Linked DNA regions of Homo sapiens. The protein of the gene in region 2 purifies or fractionates together with the protein of the main gene of each other region. This does not show direct contact. Each region holds a gene or a part of one and is shown on either strand. Other genes may lie near its edges.

Region 1 (3,791 bases), on a different chromosome or scaffold from region 2:
CTCCAGAGCCCTGGGATTAAGCATACCTGTGGGTAGCAGTGATCACCCAGAGGTAGGAGGGCACAGGTTGCTTGGCTGGCAGTTGTGATCTCTACTGTGAGATGCAACTGTGCCTATTTAGGGTCTCACTGAGCTGTAAATGGCAACACAGCCATGAGATTTCCTTGTAAGTGGATTTAGGGGGAACCCTGGGTTGACCACGACCATCCTAGGTGATGGGGAATGTGGGGTAGAGTTTTCATTTTGAGTTCCGTCAGTCCTCAGTGGTACCAATCTTTCAGCCACCCAGCAGCCTTGTGTGACCTGTCTCATGTACAGAATGAAACTCCTGCCATCTCTACATCCTAGGCTGGCGGTAATGGGGTCTCAACTCCCACTGTAGTTCTTATGGCCTGTTTCTCAGGCCCAGTACTGCTTTGTCCTGCATACATCTGATGCCTGCTCAGGCAGGCTGGGTGGTGGCTCACCTTCCACCTCCTGACAGCCCAGGAAGCTCTCTTAGGTACAGGCAGGAATAGGAGCAGATTGGGCCATGAAAGACCCTCTCTTGCTCCCTGCCCTGTCCAGAGGACATGTGCCTCTGCTCTTGGACTCTTGTCCCCTCCCTGTTCCATGCTAGGAGGCTCTAGTTGCTGGCTTCAGGCTGAGTTCTAGAGATATGGCCAAGCTCAGGCTTCAAGCTCACCAGTCAGAATGGCATCCAGCTTTGCCACCACCTGCCGTGCATTGTCCAGGCTGAAGCACATTGGGGGCTTAAACTTCAGGATGTTCCTCCCAGGGCCATCAGTGCTCAGCAAAACGTAGTTCTCCTTCAGCCTGTGAGGACAGGACACCCCTTCACATGGCCTTCAAGGCCTTCCTCAGCCTGGCCTTGGCCTCATGTCCAGTGCTCCAGCCACACTGTCCTCAGAGCCTTCCATGGGCCAGTTCCTGCCAGGTCATTTTACTGGTCACCTCTCCCAGAGTCCTGTGCATCTGGCCCACAGCAGCCTGCTTGGAGTGCACTGCACCTGGCCCTGAGCCTGCTGCCCCACAGAACAGGCACCTTGCCTCACCTAACCCTGGAGCCACAGTCCAAGCCAAGAATGAATGGCCACAGGGAAACGCCAGACTGCAAGAGTCACCTGCATTCTCTGGTTTTCTGTGTGGTTTACGTGATGTATATTGTTTCCTTATATAGAGAATGTCCAACATTGCAGTTGGTGTAATGAGCTCCACGTGCCCCTCACCAGCTTCAGGCATCTTCCTGCCCTGTCTTCCGGGTTATCTTACAATTCCAGTTTAAAATGTCCAATTATTCTTAGGAAGATGGCTTTATCTTAACATCATTTGTAGCTAATAATCACTTTTAGTCCACAGTCTAACCTCATCTCTGAGATGAGGGGTCTGCATGATTGTGTTTATATTCTTTGATCATTGTTCCCCTTCTTTTGTAAACCTTGTTATTTTTATTTCTTGGGGGTGGGGAGTGTGCCTTCTGGTTTCATTTTCCTGTCCCAGTCTTCCTGGCACTGACCATGGCCACGCCAGAAAGAACAGGGCTTGGACTTTGGAGTTAGACGGCCCTGGGGCCAGATCTAGCTCTTGCCACCTAGCAGGGTAACTGCAGGTGACTTACCCATTTCCTCACTGAACTGGAAAAGCACCCCCAGGGTATTGTGAGACACGGGCTGAACTTGGGATCTGTTTCCTTCCATGCCACCTGACCATTCCGAATCCCTGAGGCTCCTGGGAGGGGGGTAGGAGTAAGCTGGGGATGTGACTGACAGCAGAGAGAAGGCGGGACCAGGAAAGGCCAAGTTCAAATACAGCACAGAGATTTACATCAATACCACGCGTGTCTCACAATTTGAATAAGGACACGTCAAATACCAGAAGAGCTTTCCATGGTGGGCGTGGGGGAAGGGGTAGGCCTGGGGAATGGAGATAAAAGGGAATAACAATTCAACTAGAAGGAGAAGAAGTCCTGAGGACTTGGGGTCCAAGTGAAAGGACAAGCAAACCAGGGCATTGGGACCGGTGGAGTCTGAGTTCTGAGACACCCCCGACCCAGCTTAGGAGCAGGAGTCTTGTCCATCCCAACCACCTGTCGTGCGGCATGGGAACCCTGAGTCTAGTGCTGCCACAGCTCCCTGGTATGAATAGAGAAGGTGTTTCCCTTCTCCAGGCCAAGGTGGCATTAGGGGTTCCTGGGTCTGAGTGCCCTGCTAGCTTGGGCATTCTAGGCAGAGGTGCTGCTCTGGTCTGGGAATAGCCTGTGTCTCATCTGCAGCCTTTGTAGTCAGGCACTGGGTACAGAACTGCTAACACCACTTATCTCTGTCCTCAGCTGATAGGATCAGCTGTCCCCCAACAACTGCCCCCACCCGCCAGCCCCAGCCCTCTTTCAATCAAGTCTGTGGCCCAGAGTGCTGGGGGTACAGATGAGGCTCCTTTCCACTGGCCCTGCAAAGAGGTACCTGTGGTGTCTCCTACTCCAGGAAGCAACTTGTTTCAAGAAGAAAATACCTTGATACCAAGTAGGCAGCCTCTTCAGTTGCTGGTGTCCTTGTGGCCTCATCTTTGATCAGATCCACACCAATGAAGAGCCCAACACCCCTGCAAGGGAAGGTGACGACATCTCAGGAGGCCAGGCCTGAGGGGCCAGGGTGCTGGCCTCAGCCTCTGGGCTCCTACCTGTGCCTCCTGAGGGGGCTGAGTGCAGGAGGCACCTTCAGAAGGTGGTGAGAATAGTTTCAGGGAATAACTGGGCTGGGAGAGATCTTTGGTGTGGACAGAGGAGAGAGGCTCAGGGGTAGCTAGGGATCAGGTCATGTCCTAGCTTTCTCCTCCCCAGGAGAGCCGTTTTGGGCAATAGCACCTCTCAGTGTCTCAGTTCCTCTTGAGAGCGGACATAACCCCACCATCCCAGGTTGTTAGGAGGTGAAGAAAATGGTACCACACTGGGCCTTGGCAGGTGGGTGGTGACTGCTGCCCCCAGAGCCTCACCTGACATCCCCGACGATGGGATGTTTGATTTTTTGCTGCCCGAGGAGCTGCATCAGGAAGCTGCCTACACTGGTGGCATGATCCTGGAGCTGCTCCTTCTCCAAGACATTCAGGACGGCCAGCCCCACAGCGCAGGACACTGGGCTGCCCCCAAACTGAGCCAGGGACAAAGAACATGTCAGATGCCCTGGCAGAGTGGGCCATGCCCCAGAGTGAGGGTGAGGCAGAAGAACTGCCACACGTGTTCCAAGGCCAGTGGCAAGAGCAGAGGCCCCAAACCCCTTAGGGCGCACAGTCCTCAGCAGTAGTAAGTGGGGTTCAACATGGGCTGTCCTGGCTTTCCAGGAGCTAATGTGACTGCAACTCAGGTCAGGTATCCCTGAAGTACAGTAGGAGCCCCTAGAAGATACAGAATCAGAGGAGAGGGTGTCCTGTTTGTTCCCACAGGGCTAGTCTTTACCAAGAGAGGCTTTAAGGCCCCATCTCCTGGGCCCAGACCCAGAGGACTGGATTAGGCACTTCCTCCTCCAGGGAGAGTGAGCGCAGCACGCCAAGCCCCACCCAGGAAAAGCTGCTTCACACCCCTGGAGGGCTCTGGCTCCTTTCCCTCGCCCACCCTGTCCTCATCCTGCAGGTATCTGAGTGGAGACCTGTGTTTTAGAGGATCACGAGCAAGGTGTCTCCTGCAAACCACGTTTTTTGTTTCGTTTTTAAACTACATCTTTAAAAACATCAGCTTTGTTGAGGTATAATTTATATATAAACTGTGTTTAAAGTATAAAGTTCAACGTGAGGTGACAAAT
Region 2 (3,791 bases):
ATCCGCCTCGGCCTCCCAAAGTGCTGGGATCCAGGTGTGAGCCACCGCGCCTGGCCTGGATTATATCTCAAGAAAGCTGTTTTCTAAAATGTCCACGGTGTGTCAGAAGACTTTGCTCCTCACCTTCCATTTACTCGTTCAGATAAAAACCTTTCCCTGTAAAGAGATGCCCAAGGGCCCAGCTGCTCCAGCCAGAGGACAACTTCTTCCGCCGTCCATTTGGCCACAGCCTTGTGGACCAGGAGGTCGTGTTCAGATTCCCTGCTGCTCCAGTGATAGACGAGCAGGACCACCTGGGGAAAAGTGACAGGGACTTTAAACCATGGAGAGGCAGAGATGCCAGTTTCTAAATATGCGGGTGGGAGGTGGGGAAAGGAAGAGGCTGAGCTCACAGGGAATGATGCGGAGCCCGTACACAGAAGCAGGGCAACAAAAGCAGGGCAACGCCACGGCCACAGAGAACTGGGGACCACAGCTCTCCTCGGGTGCCTCTCTCTGCTGATTGCGTGGCAGTGAGGGCACAGAGGCGAGAAAAGGACTTATCTCAGGCACCTGGGAGCAGGTGGTGCCTTGACTCCATCAACTTGCTCAACATAACTGACTTGTGCCTTTTCTACTGGAAAAACATTTAGATTTTTTATGCACAGAACTTTAAAAGAAAATAGTCTCCACATTGGAAGTTAGTAAACTGGTGGGTTCTTAAGACTGTATTACCAAGGAGGTCCAGGCGTGGTGGCTCACGCCTATAATCCCAGCACTTGAGGAGTCTGAGGCGGGTGGATCACTTGAGGTCAGGAGTTCCAGACCAGCCTGGCCAACATGGTGAAACCCCATCTCTACTAATCACACAAAAATTAGCCTCTTGTAGTGGCGCATGCCTGTAATCCCAGCTACTTGGGAAGCTGAGGCAGAAGAATCACTTGAACTCGGGAGGTGGAGGTGGCAGTGAGCCGAGATCATGCCACCGCACTCTAGCCTAGGCAACAGGGCAAGACTTCATCTCAAAAAAAAAAAAAAAAAAAAAAAGAGCAAGAGATGTAATCCACATAAAATTCACACATTTGAAGTGCACACAATCCACGGTTTTTAATGTGTTCACAAATATGTGTCATCATCACCACAGCTGGTTTTAGTTCATTTTCACCACCCTAAAAGAAAGTTTTTACCTAGATCGCACCACTGCACTCCAGCCTGGGCGACAGAGCAAGAGTCCGTCTCAAAAACAAAACAAAACAAAAAAAGATTGTATTACCAAGGCAGACATGGTCTTGAATTCCAGTTCTACCACCTTTCTCCATTTACTAGGTACTATGATCTGATCTACCTGAGTAAGCAACATTCCTGAGGAAATCATAGAACCCAGCAGATTTCAATGTACGTAGTAAATTACATGGAGTCACATCATCAATTATTTCAGTGATTTCAACAGAACTGACTTCAGTGGAAATCAGGGGTCGGGGGGTGAGGTGTGGGGGGGCACAGAGGAACACAGTGATCAACTTACTGCCACTCCAGTTAAAGCTGTGAGCACACCGGAAAAGAATCCCCCTCCCATCTGCTGATTCGCTCGGCCTGTGTTAGGAGCTAAAGGAATCTGATCATTCCCATATTTCTGAAAGGCTGCAAGACTTTGGACTATGTCATTATTCTGCTGAATGTCTTCAAATCTCAGTCTAATGGCATCAGGAAATAACTTTTCAATGGCATCCCTATGGAGAATAGAAAAAAAAAATTAAGACAGTTGTTTGACTAAATATCATGTTTAGAGGCCAAAAAAGCCCTGATAGTCAACATCTAATAATATATAGCTACCCTAGGAGAACTGACAAGAAATGTATTATAGTCCTGTGGGTAAAAGCAAAAAATCTGAAATAATCTATTAGGTTGTTTACCATTACTTTCTCCTTTTGTTTTTTTGAGACGGAGTCTTACTCTGTCGCCCAGGCTGGAGTGCAATGGCGTGATCTTGGCTCACCGGTGCACACCACCATACCCGGATAACTTTTTTTTTGTATTTTTAGTAGAGATAGGGTTTCACTATGTTGCCCAGGCTGGTATTGAACTCCTGAGCTCAGGCAATCTGCCCACCGGGGCCTCCCAAAGTGCTAAGATTAGAGGCATGAGCCACTGCACCCAGCCTACCATTACTTTCAATGGTAAAAACTGCAATTACTTGTGCACCAACCTGATGATATACATTTACTACTAGGTAAAAGGCTAAATGAAATATGGTATATTCATACAATGAAGTATCACAATTTTAAATGCATTTGCTGGATCACTAAATGTGTCAAGGTGGAGAAATTTAAGACGTACATAATTGATTTAAAATAGTAAACTGCAGAACCATGCAGAGAGCACATCAATGATGTGAGAAAATACTTGCATTTTCTATTGGCACTTGTTTTTTTTTTTTTTTGAGACAAGAGTCTTGCTCTGTCACCCAGGCTGGAGTGTAATGTCATGATCTCAGCTTACCGCAACCTCCGTGTCCTTCAAGTGATTCTCATGTCTCAGCCTCCTGAGTAGCTGGGATTATGGGCATGCGCCATTACACCAGGCTAATTTTTGTATTTTTGGTCATGTTGGCTAGGCTGGTCTTGAATTCCTGGCCTCATGAGATCCGCCTGCCTCGGTCCTCCCAAGGTACTGGGATTACAGGCATGAGCCACCGCACCCAGCCTGGCACATGTATGTTTAGAAGTATTTTTAAGCCGGGCGTGGTGGCTCACGCCTGTAATCCCAGCACTTTGGGAGGCCGAGGTGGGCAGATCACTTAAGGTCAGGAGTTCCAGACCAGCCTGGCCAACATGGTAAAACCCTGTTTCTACTAAAAATACAAAAATCAACCGGGTGTGGTGGTGGGCGCCTGTAATCCCAGCTACTTGGGAGGCTGAGGCAGGAGAATCGCTTGAACCTGGGAGGAGGAGGTTGCAGTGAGCTGAGATCGCACCATTGCACTCCAGCCTGGGCAACAGAGCGAGACTCTGTCTCAAAAAAGAGTATTTTGAAAAATCTGAGGCTGGGTGTAGTGGCTCACGCCTGTAATCTCAGCACTGTGGGATGCTGAGGCAGGAGGTTCACTTGAGCTCAGCAGTTGGAGACCAGCCTGGGCAACATAGTGAGACCTGATCGCTACTAAAAAGTTAAAAAAAAGTATTTAAAAAAATCTGAACAAAAGCACAACTAAGTCATAACTGAAATTATTCTAAGGAAAAAGGAAAGGATTCTAAGATGGGAAAATAAGGGGTCAAAAGGATCTTTAGTTTTATCAGTAATTTTCCAATATTTTAAAAAGAGGCTGGGCGCGGGGGCTCATGCCTGTAATCCCAGCACTTTGGGAGGCTGAGGCGGGCGGATCACCTGAGGTCGGGAGTATGAGACCAGCCTGACCAACATGGAGAAACTCTGTCTCTACGAAAAATACAAAATTAGCCAGGCATGGTGGCACATGCCTGTAATCCCAGCTACTTGGGAGGCTGAGGCAGGAGAATCACTTGAACCTGGGAGGCGGAGGTTGCAGTGAGCCGAGATTTTGCCAATGCACTCCAGCCCGGGCAACAAGGGTGAAGCTCCATCTTAAAAAAAAAAAATTTTAGCTGGGCATTTGGCCAGGCACAGTGGCTCACGCCTGTAATCCCAGCACTTTGGGAGGCCAAGACGGGCGGATCACTAAAGGTCAGGAGTTCGAGACCAGCCTGGCCAAAACTGTGAAACCCCGTCTCTACTGAAAATACAAACATTCACCAGGCACGGTGGCTCACGCCTATAATCCCAGCACTTTGGGAGGC
Region 3 (3,791 bases), on a different chromosome or scaffold from region 2:
CTGCTGAGAAAAAAGAAAGGAGGGCATGAAACATAGGAATTTCACACAGTTAGGATGAGGAACAAAAACTAGACTTGATGCAGGGAAGGACAGATATCTAATCCACAGCCACAGAAAAGGTCATTGGGCCGGTTGCGGTGGCTCATGCCTGTAATCCCAGCACTTTGGGAGGCCAAGGCAGGTGGATCACCTGAGGTCAGGAGTTCGAGACCAGCCTGACTAACATGGTGAAACCCCACCTCTACTAAAAATAAAAAAATTAGCCGGGTGTGGTAGCGCATGCCAGTAATCCCAGCTACTCAGGAGGCTGAGGCAGGAGAATCACTTGAACCTGGGAGGCAGAGGTTGCAGTGGGCCGAGATTGCGCAACTGCACTCCAGCCTGGGTGACAGAGCAAGACTCTGTCTCAAAAAAAAAAAAAAAAGAAAGTTCATTGGCAGGAAATGGGAAGAGAACCAACTCTCTCCATCCAAAGGAGAAGGTTCACAAAGACGCACTGGCAAAAATACAGTGTGACATATGCTCAAGGGTACTTACTCATTGCAGCATTATTTACACTAAGGACTGGAAATAGCCTAATGTCCACCAATAGGAAGTGATTGAAAAAGCTGTGGTATGTCCACATAGTGGAGTAAGATGCCAAGGACAGCCTCTATACCCTTCTCCAGGGGATGCTGTCATATGGAGAAAGCAAAATGAAATGGTATTTGAGTGCACTACCTCTTTTGTAATAAAGGGAAGATATACGTTGGATTTTTTTCAAAAGTAATAAGATAAATCAAAAAACAAATAAAAATGGCAATCGAGGTGGGGAGGAGAGGCAAGGATGCACTACCTTGGGCATACATTAATGTTTTATATAATTAAATACAAAATTAAAACAAAGTCTAAGACCCTGTCTTTTCTGTACCCTCCTCCCCATTCACCATCACCCCCTTCCCCCTATGACTCTCAGCCGTCAGCCTTCAGCAGAAAGCCCCCAAGGGGACCTGACCAAGGTGTTGGGGAAGAGCTGTTCCCCCAGCTCTGCAGGAACAAATGCAAAGGAGGCTTAGCTTCACTTTCCAAAAGGCTTCCTGCCTTTCTTTTCATAAGCCACTGTTCCCTTCCTGTAGAATCCTAGATTTCTTCTAAGAGGCAGACAAGGGCCTGGCCAGACTGCCTTCTGGTTTTGTCCAGCAGTTGAGTGAGTCTTCTGGGATTAGGGGCAATGCAGACACAGCAGCAGGCTCTGCCCAGCCCCTCCAGGCCCTGGCTTTCCTTGATTTGTTCTTCCCTTGGCTGATAAAGTCAGCCAGAACAGGGACTAGAAAAAAGCTTTAAGGTCTAATCTGCCTTTCTTCTCCCGAGAATGTTGCATCCTCTGTTGACACCTCTCAAGTCTCTATGTCAGAGAGGAATGAATGAATGAATGAGTGAATGTCCCACAGCCTGGCCACACTGAATCATCTTTCAACTTCTTTTGATAGTTTTCAAGAGGGGTCCAATAAGGCCTTATAAAGAAGCAGGTGTTAGGTCTCCTCCATAGAGAGACATGCCTCTCCTTAAGAAAACCTTATGCCACACTCAAAAAAATCGATTTGGCCGGGTACGGTGGCTCACGCCTGTAATCCCAGCACTTTGGGAGCTGAAGCAGGTGGATCACCTGAGGTCAGGAGTTCGAGACCAGCCTGGCCAACATGGCGAAACCCCATCTCTACTAAAAATACAAAAAATTTGCTGGGTGCGGTGGCACGTGCCTGTAATCCCAGCTACTCAGGAGGCTGAGGCAGGAAAATCACTTGAACCTGGGAGGCTGAAGTTGCAGGGGGCTGAGAAAAAAATAAATTTAATTTTTAAACATATTAGGAGATGTTGCTTAAAATTCGATGAGAGTTCCTTCTCATTGAGCCCAATTATTGGCAGTGTTCTTTTAAATTTAAAAAAAAAATCCTCAGGTGCTTAAGAAACATGAGATGTTTCACCAAGTTTTATTTTATTCATCATTTGATGGAGAGGGAAAGGGCTGCCCAGATAACTTTTAAGACACCTTCCAACCTTAAAAGTCTGTGAAAACACGTGAGATGCTGTGCCCCAGTCCCCTTTGCACTTCTAGTACTGCCACGACTATCCCCCTACTGCATGTGCCGTGGCCAAGTTATCATCCCACGTCAGCGGAACCACAGCGCTTCAGAGGCCACAGCTGAGCCATGCCCCTTTAGAAACCACTGAATTTCTCAAAGACAACGAGCAGAATCGTGTGTGTGTGTGTGTGTGTGTTTCTACATGCATGTCAGTATCTGAGCACAAAACAAGTTGAAAAAGTGGGTGGGAAGAGTTACATTTAGCAGACAATTTAACTTAGAATTAGGGAATCCTAAAATGTCAGTGCTGGAAAACCACATTTTAAAGAGCTTCTGGGATGGCCATGCACAATAGCTCATGCCTGTAATCCCAGCACTTTGGGAGACTCAGGAGGGTGGATCACCTTAAGTCAACATGGTGAAATCCTGTATCTACTAAAAATACAAAAAAAATTAGCCAGGCATGGTGGCGGGTGCCTGTAATCCCAGCTACTAGGGAAGCTGAGGCATGAGAATCATTTGAACCCGGGAGGCTGAGGTTGCATTGAGCTGAGATTGCACTCCAGCCTGGGTGACAGAGCGAGACTCCATCTCAAAAAAATAAATAAATAAAATAAAATAATAAAGAGCTTCTGGGGGAGCGGGGAGGTGGGAATGGATTTGCAACTCTCTAAACAAAGCTGTGCCCATGGCCAGGGAGTTGGCCCATAAATGTTGCTTTAATTGGATTATAGTAAAAGAATCAAGGGGAGCAGCCTCTCTCCCTCAATACCTCAATCAGATATCTAGGCGCTTTTCTAGGATTGGAATTAATTGAATCAAGGGCTATTTTCCTAGAGAAAAGAAGCCAATTTAAGATTTTATAAATAATTGCAATTCTGTGTTATTTCCCATTGGGGGAGATGGGGAATTCAAATGAATAAACTCACAGCAAGCAGGCGGAGGTGTTACCATTTCTTTTAATTAAGGATGTACTTAATCTCTTAAGATCACTTACAAAGTGGCCTCCCAAAGCTGAGATTCCCTCAAATGCCTAAATACCTCCACCTGCCGAATGAGGTTCAGGGCAGAGCCGAAGAGCAGGCCTCTCCCGGCTCTGTGTCATGTCCTGATTGCCTGCATAGTCTTCAGGTGGGCGTTTGCCCAGCCTTTGCCAAGCTCCAGGAGCTACAGGTCATCTGGCGAGTTTCCACGGTCTCCTTCATTTAAAAAAACAAAAACACCTTCCTGGGGAGAAAGGAGGGTCCTTCTTTACAGTAGAATGCTGAGAGCCAACTTACGAATGTGGAGAGAATACTGGAGTCAGAAAAGCATTGTTTTACAACCAACATAGTAAATGCTGGATCACACAAGAATCATCAGCAGACGCTCAATCTAGGGGGAAACTTTTCATGTGCAGCAGGATATTTACAGAATCTTAAAATGTCTCTCCAGCACTTGCTTATTAATTGCGTGGGGAAAAAATAGTAACTATATAAAATTAACTGCAGAGTGATAATATCAGAAAATATCTTGACCAAATAATCAAAATTAGCATCACGAATAGGGGGGCAGATGGACATGACGTATTTCCAGATGGGATGCCCTGAGAAAGACACATCACTTCTGTGATATTCTGGCCAGAACGTACAGCTTGAATCTAATTATGAGGAAATACCACATGTACCAAAGATAAGGAAAATTCTATTTAATGAAAGGTGGGAGGAGTGACTGCATTCTTCAAAAGTC
Region 4 (4,288 bases), on a different chromosome or scaffold from region 2:
CCCTTGTAGTCTATTTCACAGCCATCCTGGGCTGCAAGGACTCAAAGATGGAAGAGTAAGCCATAGCAGGGGCATAAGTCCCAGAAGCCCACAGGGGGCAATATTAGCTACCAATTACTGAGTGCTTCTCTCCATACTGTGCATTCACCTTTAATCCTCACAACAACTAAGAAGGACATTATTACTCCCATTTCACAGAGGAAGAAACTAAGGCTCAGAGAGGTTAAGTAACTTTCCATAGTTATATCTGGGTAGGCAAAAAGTCTGATGCCCTGCACCTTTTACTATACCTTACTGTGTCTCTTAGAAAAAATAAAAAAAGGACATACAGTGAAGCAGCCCAGAGCTTACCTGACAGGTGGTTAACTGTATGACTTTATCTAAAAGAGCATCCCCATATCACTCATTTTCTGCTTTATTTTTCTTCATGCCACTTCTTGATGTTACATTATATATGACTACTTGTTTACTGTACACCACCCCTGCCAGAAACTAAACTCCAGGAGGGCAGGAACTCTGCTTTGCTCACTGCTGTTTCCCCTGCATCTGAAACTGTGCTGGCCCAAAGAAGATGTACATATATTTATATGGCGAATGAATGTAAGACCCTATGAAAGACTTGCTCAGCATGAAGGGGAATATAGAGCATATATGCACAGGATTTCTTGGTCAGCCCTGAGATCTCCGTGGCTGTCCCATTACCAGGGGTGCAAGGCTGCTGAACACCTGGGAGAAAAGTAACATGACACATGGGCACTCTGAGGTTCAAATTACGGTACCAATTTTTGTAACACTGTGAGAGGCCCTAAATCCAGGATAAAGCAAGACGAAGGGAAATTTAACACAACCTATTACAACTGTTGTTTGCCTTTCTTCCTCACAAACACTCCAGACATATCACACGTGCACATGCACACATACACACACACACACACACACACACACACACCCCTAACAAGGTAAATCCCCTTCCTGTGAACCGAACTTTATTCCCCCAAAATTCACGTGTTGAAGCCCTAACCTTTAGTACCTTACTGTATTTGGAAAGAAGGCCTTTAAAGGGGCAATTAAGGTTAAATGAGGTCATAAGGGTGGGGCCCTAATCCAATATGACTGGTGTCCTTAAAAGAAGAGACACCACGGATGCTCACGCACACAGAAAAGGCCATGTGAGGACACAGTGAAAAAAGCCATGTGAGGACACAGTGAGAAGGCGGCCATCTGCAAGCCAGAGAGAGGCCTCGGGAGAAACCAAACCTACTCACACCTTGATCTTGGCCTTCTAGCCTCTGGAACTGTGAGAAAATAAATTTCTGTTGTTTAAGCCTCTGTTGTGTGGTATTTTGTTATGGTAGCCCTAGCCGACCAACACACCCCCACAGTTTCAGATTATACAGCAGGAAAAACACACTACCAGTCCTCCAAACACAGCAGAAGGGTGTCAACAACCTATTAAACATATTTTACAACCTTTAATATTCGGCTTTGTCTGTACTGAAACAATATTTCTGTTTCCTCTGTCCACACAGACGCCAGTCTCCTGCCTGGAAAAAGCCAGAGACAGCACACATTCAATCCCCAACTCCACCCCCAGCTCCCGGGCCACCTCAAAGACGCCCAGCCAGCCAGACTACCGCAGGTCACGCCATGCTCTCCCTCCTGCCAAATTGCAGCCCCACATTCAACAATTGCCGCCTTGTACTGATCATTACTTCTTTAAAAATTGGACAACTAATACTGATTTTAACAGCAATACAGGTTATAATTTTGCTCTCCCCCAACACAAGAGCTGGAAGTCCTTCACTCGTGTATTTCACTCATGTGTATTTCCCCAACACCAGCACATGGGTAGGCACACAGATGCTCGTTCATTCATTCGTCAACGAGTATTTACTGGGGACCTACAATGTGCCAGACACCAAGAGAGGCACCGTGAACAAGACAGGCACAGCACCCACTCTTACCACACTTACTTTCCAGCCAGAGAGACTGACGTTAATAATAAATTATACACATCATTACAATTGTGATACGTGCTATGAAGAAGCACAAGACGCAGCGACTGCTTGTTCCCGTGCATGCTGGTCGGCCACCTGCCACGCTCCTGTGCATGAACCCTCCTCTCTCCCAGACACACATCAAGATGACCCTGTCTCTCCCAATGCTCCCGTCAAACCAACAGCAGCCCAACTCCCCCAACACATGCAAGAACCGGTCACAGCAGAGTGTCAGCAAATAGGCAGGGTCTGTGCCTTGTGCGCGGCCAAACACCGCAGGCCTCACATCTAAAGGATGCTTTCGCCAGGCTGGGACAGGGTCTCCCTCCTCCAGGCATCAGGAGTGTGGGGGGCACAGGTGGCCCCACGGAGCTCTGGGACCGGGCGATCCTCTCCACCGAGCCCTCCGCGCTGTCTTCCAGGCGCTATTCGGGCTGGAGGGCTCTCGCGGAACCAGACGCTCTGCCCCGAGGCAGGTTCTTCCCGCGGCGCCACAGCCCCTCCGGCCCTGACCCCGCCAGCCGGCAGGCCCCTAAGTCGACCGCGAAGACCCTTCCTTCCCCGCCCGCCCGCTCCTCCTCCGCTCCCCCTCCGCTCCCAGCCCAGGATCCTTCAACCCAGAGCCCGGCTCGGACCTCAGCCGCCCAGCCCCTGAACTGCCCACGCCGCGGCCAGCAGCTCCCACATCTCGGCGCCCCTCAGGGCCTGCACCGGCCCGGGGGCGGAGTCACGTACCCAGGCGAAGAGCGCGGCCGCCGCGGGGGCGGCCTCCGAGGCGCTGGGCTCGCGCTCCATGCGAGGACGCTCCGCCGGCGCTTCCGGGAGGGACGGCACGGGGGCGGCGCCTGCCGGGGGTAGGTGAGCGCCGGAGCCGGACCGGGGACGCGTGATGGGTAGGGCGCGGGGCGGGGTCTGTGGTGGGAAGCGGCCCGCAGGCCGGGAGAGAGGGTGCGGCCGGGCCCTCGGGCCACTGGGGATCAGTGGTGGGCGGGGCCGGACGACAGCCCCGGAGCCGCCTCCCAGTCAGCCCGCCCCGGCGGCGCTCGCAGCGTCTCCGCCCGCAGCCTCCTGTCTCGCTGGGCCTCTCAGCCTCTCGCTCCTACCCCCTCGTACTCTTTATTTTTAGTCATAATTTCATGTTTCATGCAGGTGCACTGCGCGCCACAGTTCACAAAGCTCCTTCGCGTTTTTGTCTCCTTGGAGGCCCACGACAGCCCAGAGGGGCTGACAGGGCAGCGATGGCATCACCATTTGCGGGAACAGGAAATGGAGCCTGAGGGGTAGGGCAGGGTCCTGCCCGGCGTCTCAGGCGCAATTGTCTTGAGCCCGCTTTGGTGTGCGTTCGCAAACATCTGAGGGGGCGCCTTGGGAGGCGAGTGGAGTGGCACGTCGCCGGTGTCGCCCTCTGCACCTGGCACGGAGCGGGAACCCGCGCCTCGCGACGCTGAATGGGGGAGGCTGGTTAGCGTCGACTCCTGCCGGGGCAGCCTCGGCGCTCCGGGCACGGCCCTGAGCTCATTCTATTAATAATACTGGATAATCGTCACCCAACGAACATTTCCATATAAAATGGCTTTTCTCAGACAGCGTCGTGTTGCTGATGGGAGTTAATTAAGTTCAATTTATCTGAAGGAAAATATGGCACCGCGTACCGGGAATACAGAACACATAGGGTCACATTAAAGATGATCATCCACATTCACATTCGGTAGCACTTGGCCCCTCTGCTGACACGGGCCTCCAGCACTCACTGCCCTTCACCCCTGGGCTTCTGGGAAGTGTCTCCAATGAGCTCTTACACTGTCCTTTCCTGTTCTTTCACTCCATCCACTTTTAGGAGTTTCTGCCTGTAAGACCACTTGAGGGCAGCCCCTCACCTTTATCTCTCCAACCTGTGGCATCTGGAGAACGTCGATGACCATACCAAGAAAAAAGCAAACTTTGGAGAGATAAAACAGCTCTTCATTCTCTAGGGATCTGAATGTGCAGGAGCTATACCATGCTTACTGACTGTCTTATGAGTGGGCTTTTTTGTGCTGACCATTTCTTTGAAGCATGTGTAACAGGATGTAAAAATGGGATCCTTCACCGCTCAGTTTTGGCTGAGCAACAAGTGCCAGTTACTCCTATATCATAAAGTAAGGTTCAAGACCACCAAAGCAGGTCTTGCAAAGCAACTGTCTAGAAACCAGTGTATGACTTTCAGTCTACGAAAAAGGTTGAGAGGCCAGAGAGAATTCTAGTAGGATATGTGGCCACAATTATCAATGTGGTGTGGGTCTCAACCCATC
Region 5 (3,791 bases), on a different chromosome or scaffold from region 2:
AGGCTGGTCTCAAACTCCTGACTTCACAATCCACCCACGTTGGCCTCCCAAAGTGCTGGGATTACAAGTGTGAGCCACTGTACCCGGCCTTTATTTTATTTTTTTATTGAGACGGAGTCTCACTCTGTCACCCAGGCTGGAGTGCAGTGGCACGATCTCAGCTCACTGCAACCTCCACCACCTGGGTTCGGGTTCAAGTGATTCTCCTGTTTCAGCCTCCCAAATAGCTGGGACTACAGGTGTGTGCCACCACGGCTGGCTAATTTTTTTTTTTTTTTTTTTTTTGAGACAGAGTCTTGCTCTGTCGCCCAGGCTGGAGTACAGTGGTGCGATCTCGGCTCACTGCAAGCTCTGTCTCCTGGGTTCATGCCATTCTTCTGCCTCAGCCTCCCAAGTAGCTGAGACTACAGGCACCCGCCACCACGCCTGGCTAATTTTTTGTGTTTTTAGTAGAGATGAGGTTTTACCATGTTAGCCAGGATGGTCTGGATCTCCTGACCTCATGATACACCTGCCTTGGCCTCCCAAAGTGCTGGGATTACAGGCATGAGCCATTGTACCCAGCCTCATTATTTATTTTGATGCTAAAATAATTGCAGATGGCTGGTGGGAATCCCTTTCCGTGACCTTTTGATATGCCCTCATTATTCTTTGAATACTTCATTACTTTCTGGCATAGCAAAGTGTTCCAGACTCATACTTCCCCTGGCTGTGCTCTGGAACCAGCCATTTCTCTGAAGGAGGCCTGGTTCCATTATTGTTTATCTGTTTATTATTAATTTTTGAGACAGGGTCCTGCTCTGTTGCCCAGGCCGGAGTGCAGTGGTGCTTTCTTGGCTCACTGCAATCTCGGCCCCTCCAAGGTCAAACAATCCTCCCACCTCAGTCTCCAGTGTAGCACACCACCACATTCAGCTAATTTTTGTATTTTTTGTAGAGACGGGGTTTCACTGTGTTGGCCAGGCTGGTCTTGAACTCCTGGGCTCAAGTGATCCAAATGCCTCGGCCTCCCAAAGTGCTGGGATTGCAGGCATGTGCCACCGTGCCCGGCCTGTTTTTTATTTTTTGTAAACTTTTTTTTATGATTTAGAAGGACTATCTTCAAACCAGTACAAGTATTTCATAAATAATATCTGATTGTTTTCTAACCAGTTGAGTAATTTGTTGCACGATAAGCCACCTCACATCTTTCAGCAAGAAAAATACTAAGTCTGAACAGTAAAGACATTACACAATGAGTTAGGACACAATTAAAATCTGCTTTAAATATTTTTTTGGGGGAGAGGACACCACACTTCTCTACTAAATAAAGAGAAACAATTTTGCAGTCCAGAGGTCTTTTATTTTTTTATACCTATCATGCCATGAATTCATAGGGAATAGGTTCCAGCAGCTCAGGCTCCTTCCCGTTGGTTCTCACACAGTGGGATTCCCTGGGTGGAGTAGGCTGGTGCTTCAGCTGAAACCAGGTACCTTTCTCTTTGGCTTCCTTCTTTTTCTGATCATCTTCTTTCATGCATTTCAGAAGCTATCTTGGGTCTTAGAGCGCTTAATGTGCTCAATGTGCACGTTAATTCTCTTGGCAAGAATTTTGCCCTTAATTTGTTTACAGCAGTGCCAACAACATGCTGGGTAACATTGTAGACTCTTCCAGTTTTTCCCAGGTAATGCTTTTGGGCATTCCTTTTTGAATAGTACCCGTTCGCTTGATGTCTACAGTATTGCCTTTCTTATAGATTTGCATGCACGTGGCCCAAGGAACAACTCCATGTTTTCTAAAAGGCCTAGAGAACATATATTGGGTAATTCTTCTCTTTCCCTGTGTTTGTCGTTTTGGTGAATTACTGGAAGACGGCAGTACCAACCAAAAGCCCTGGTTCCATTTAGTGGTAAATGGTATTTAGAAACCAAGATCTGAGTGCCAGGTGTGCTTGTTGCTACTGGTGTATCATTGCTTCTAGGCCCTCTCAGAGGCCAGTGCTGGGAAATACATGTTTGTATATATGTCTGTGCACATATCTAGTTCTGTATCTGTCTGTCTACATAATAATAAGTTCATCCAGATACTTTAATTATAGTCTAATACCACAGGGTTCATTTCTGCCTTCTCCCTTTCCATATTTGTATTTGTTCTCTGACAGTAAGAAATTTGACTCCCATTATCCACAATGTTTATCTAATTGCTCATCATAGAATACACTTAGTATTCTAATAATAGTAGTTTCAGATTTGTAAATCCATACCTCTGTGGAAAATAAACCTTCTAATTAGAGCTCAGAATTTTTTTACAGTTGTTTTTATATTCAGCGTGAGAGTATAGTCAGAATACTGTGTTCAAAAGTTACTTGGGTCAGTTCTACCTTTCCTTCACCCTCCTTCAGTGTGGTTATGATACTCATTTAAAATAACAGATTCATTTGTTTGTGTTTGTATTCATTTGGGTTTTATTTCCCCCATCCTTGCTGATTTTAAAATTTTATTTTGATTAGGCAAAACACAAACATGGTTCTAAACATCAGAATTTTACAAAAACAGATACTCAGAAGTGTTACTGCTCCCCATCCTGTGTACTCTGTTTCCAGTGCCTCCTTCCCACCCAGTTTTGTCCATCTCCTGTGGGTAGCCAGTCTGATTTGTTTCTGGTTTTTGCTTCCTGTGTTTCTTTTTCCACAAATGAATAGGTACTTGTATATTTCTTATTCTTCTTTCATACACAAAAGGTAGCACATTAGAGGTACTCTTTTGTACTTTGCTTTCTTTGCTATGTGTGTGTGTGGATGAATATACACACACAAAGAATACATATAGTATAGAATATATAGAATAAATATATAGAATATTCTACATAATCTGTACTATGTATACTTTATATATATATAGAGAGAGAGAGAGAGCACTAAAAATAATTGTGACGTAATGTGAATTTATTTTATTATTATTATTTTTTCGAGATGGAGTCTCACTCTGTAGCCCAAGTTGGAGTGCAGTGACACGATCTTGGTTCACTGCAACCTTCGCCCCTGGAGCTCAAGCGATTCTCCTGCCTCACCCTCCCAAGTAGCTGGGACTAGAGGCATGCGCTACCACACCCAGTTAATTTTTTTGTATTTTTAGTAGAGACAGGGTTTCACCATGTTGGCCAGGCTGGTCTTGAACTCCTGAGCTCAGGCGATCCACCCGCCTCAGCCTTCCAAAGTGTGGGATTATAGGCGTGAGCCACCACGCCTGGCATGAGCCACCATGCCCAGTGTGATTTTAAATATGTATCACAATTTATCCGTTCATCTGGCAATGGGGTTATTTCCTTATCTTGGTTATTGTGAATAATGCTGCACTGAGCATGGGAGTGCAGATATGTCTTTAAGCTACTGATTTCATTTCCTTTGGTATATACCCAGAAGAGGAATTGCTGAATCATAGGATGGTTCTATTTTTAATTTTTTTTTTTTTTTTTTTTGATTCGGAGTCTCACTTAGTTGCCCAGGCTGGAGTGCAATGGCACGATCTCAGCTCACTGCAACTTCCGCCTCCTGGGTTCAAGTGATTTTCCTGCCTTAGCCTCCTGAGTAGCTGGGATTACAGGCATGTGCCACCACGCCTGACTAATTTTGTATTTTTAGTAGAGACGGGGTTTCTCCATGTTGGCCAGGCTGGTCTCGAACTCCTGACCTCAGGTGATCTGCCCACCTCGGCCTCCCAAAGTGCTGGGATTGCAGGCATGAGCCGCTGTTCCCTGCCAATTTTTAATTTTTTAAAGAGCCCCTATCCTGTTTTCCTTCATGGCTATACTA

The links.
Region 1: the proteins of BFAR (region 2) and PHYKPL purify together in Homo sapiens (affinity purification with mass spectrometry; one large-scale study listed by BioGRID and IntAct). This does not show direct contact.
Region 3: the proteins of BFAR (region 2) and CASP10 purify together in Homo sapiens (affinity purification with western blotting, with the first as the bait; one study listed by BioGRID). This does not show direct contact.
Region 4: the proteins of BFAR (region 2) and SERGEF purify together in Homo sapiens (affinity purification with mass spectrometry; one large-scale study listed by BioGRID and IntAct). This does not show direct contact.
Region 5: the proteins of BFAR (region 2) and ALDH9A1 purify together in Homo sapiens (affinity purification with mass spectrometry, with the first as the bait; one large-scale study listed by BioGRID). This does not show direct contact.

The regions. Positions count from the first base shown.
Region 1 is NC_000005.10:178,212,288-178,216,078, forward strand, and holds part of PHYKPL (5-phosphohydroxy-L-lysine phospho-lyase), read right to left. Parts: intron 3,144-3,791; coding exon 2,989-3,143; intron 2,599-2,988; coding exon 2,509-2,598; intron 1,729-2,508; coding exon of another isoform or gene 1,578-1,728; exon of another isoform or gene 823-1,577; intron 817-822; coding exon 686-816; intron 1-685.
Region 2 is NC_000016.10:14,646,306-14,650,096, reverse strand, and holds part of BFAR (bifunctional apoptosis regulator), read right to left. Parts: intron 1,710-3,791; coding exon 1,505-1,709; intron 294-1,504; coding exon 124-293; intron 1-123. UniProt on the Homo sapiens protein: Membrane-bound E3 ubiquitin ligase that plays a role in several processes including apoptosis regulation or reticulum endoplasmic stress. Has anti-apoptotic activity, both for apoptosis triggered via death-receptors and via mitochondrial factors.
Region 3 is NC_000002.12:201,199,942-201,203,732, reverse strand, and holds part of CASP10 (caspase-10 isoform 1 preproprotein), read right to left. Parts: intron 3,291-3,791; coding exon of another isoform or gene 3,231-3,290; exon of another isoform or gene 3,004-3,230; intron 4-3,003; coding exon 1-3. UniProt on the Homo sapiens protein: Involved in the activation cascade of caspases responsible for apoptosis execution. Recruited to both Fas- and TNFR-1 receptors in a FADD dependent manner. May participate in the granzyme B apoptotic pathways.
Region 4 is NC_000011.10:18,010,219-18,014,506, forward strand, and holds the start of SERGEF (secretion-regulating guanine nucleotide exchange factor), read right to left. Parts: upstream 2,830-4,288; 5' UTR 2,793-2,829; coding exon 2,733-2,792; intron 1-2,732. UniProt on the Homo sapiens protein: Probable guanine nucleotide exchange factor (GEF), which may be involved in the secretion process.
Region 5 is NC_000001.11:165,674,352-165,678,142, reverse strand, and holds part of ALDH9A1 (4-trimethylaminobutyraldehyde dehydrogenase isoform 1 precursor), read left to right. Parts: intron 1-3,791. UniProt on the Homo sapiens protein: Converts gamma-trimethylaminobutyraldehyde into gamma-butyrobetaine with high efficiency (in vitro). Can catalyze the irreversible oxidation of a broad range of aldehydes to the corresponding acids in an NAD-dependent reaction, but with low efficiency.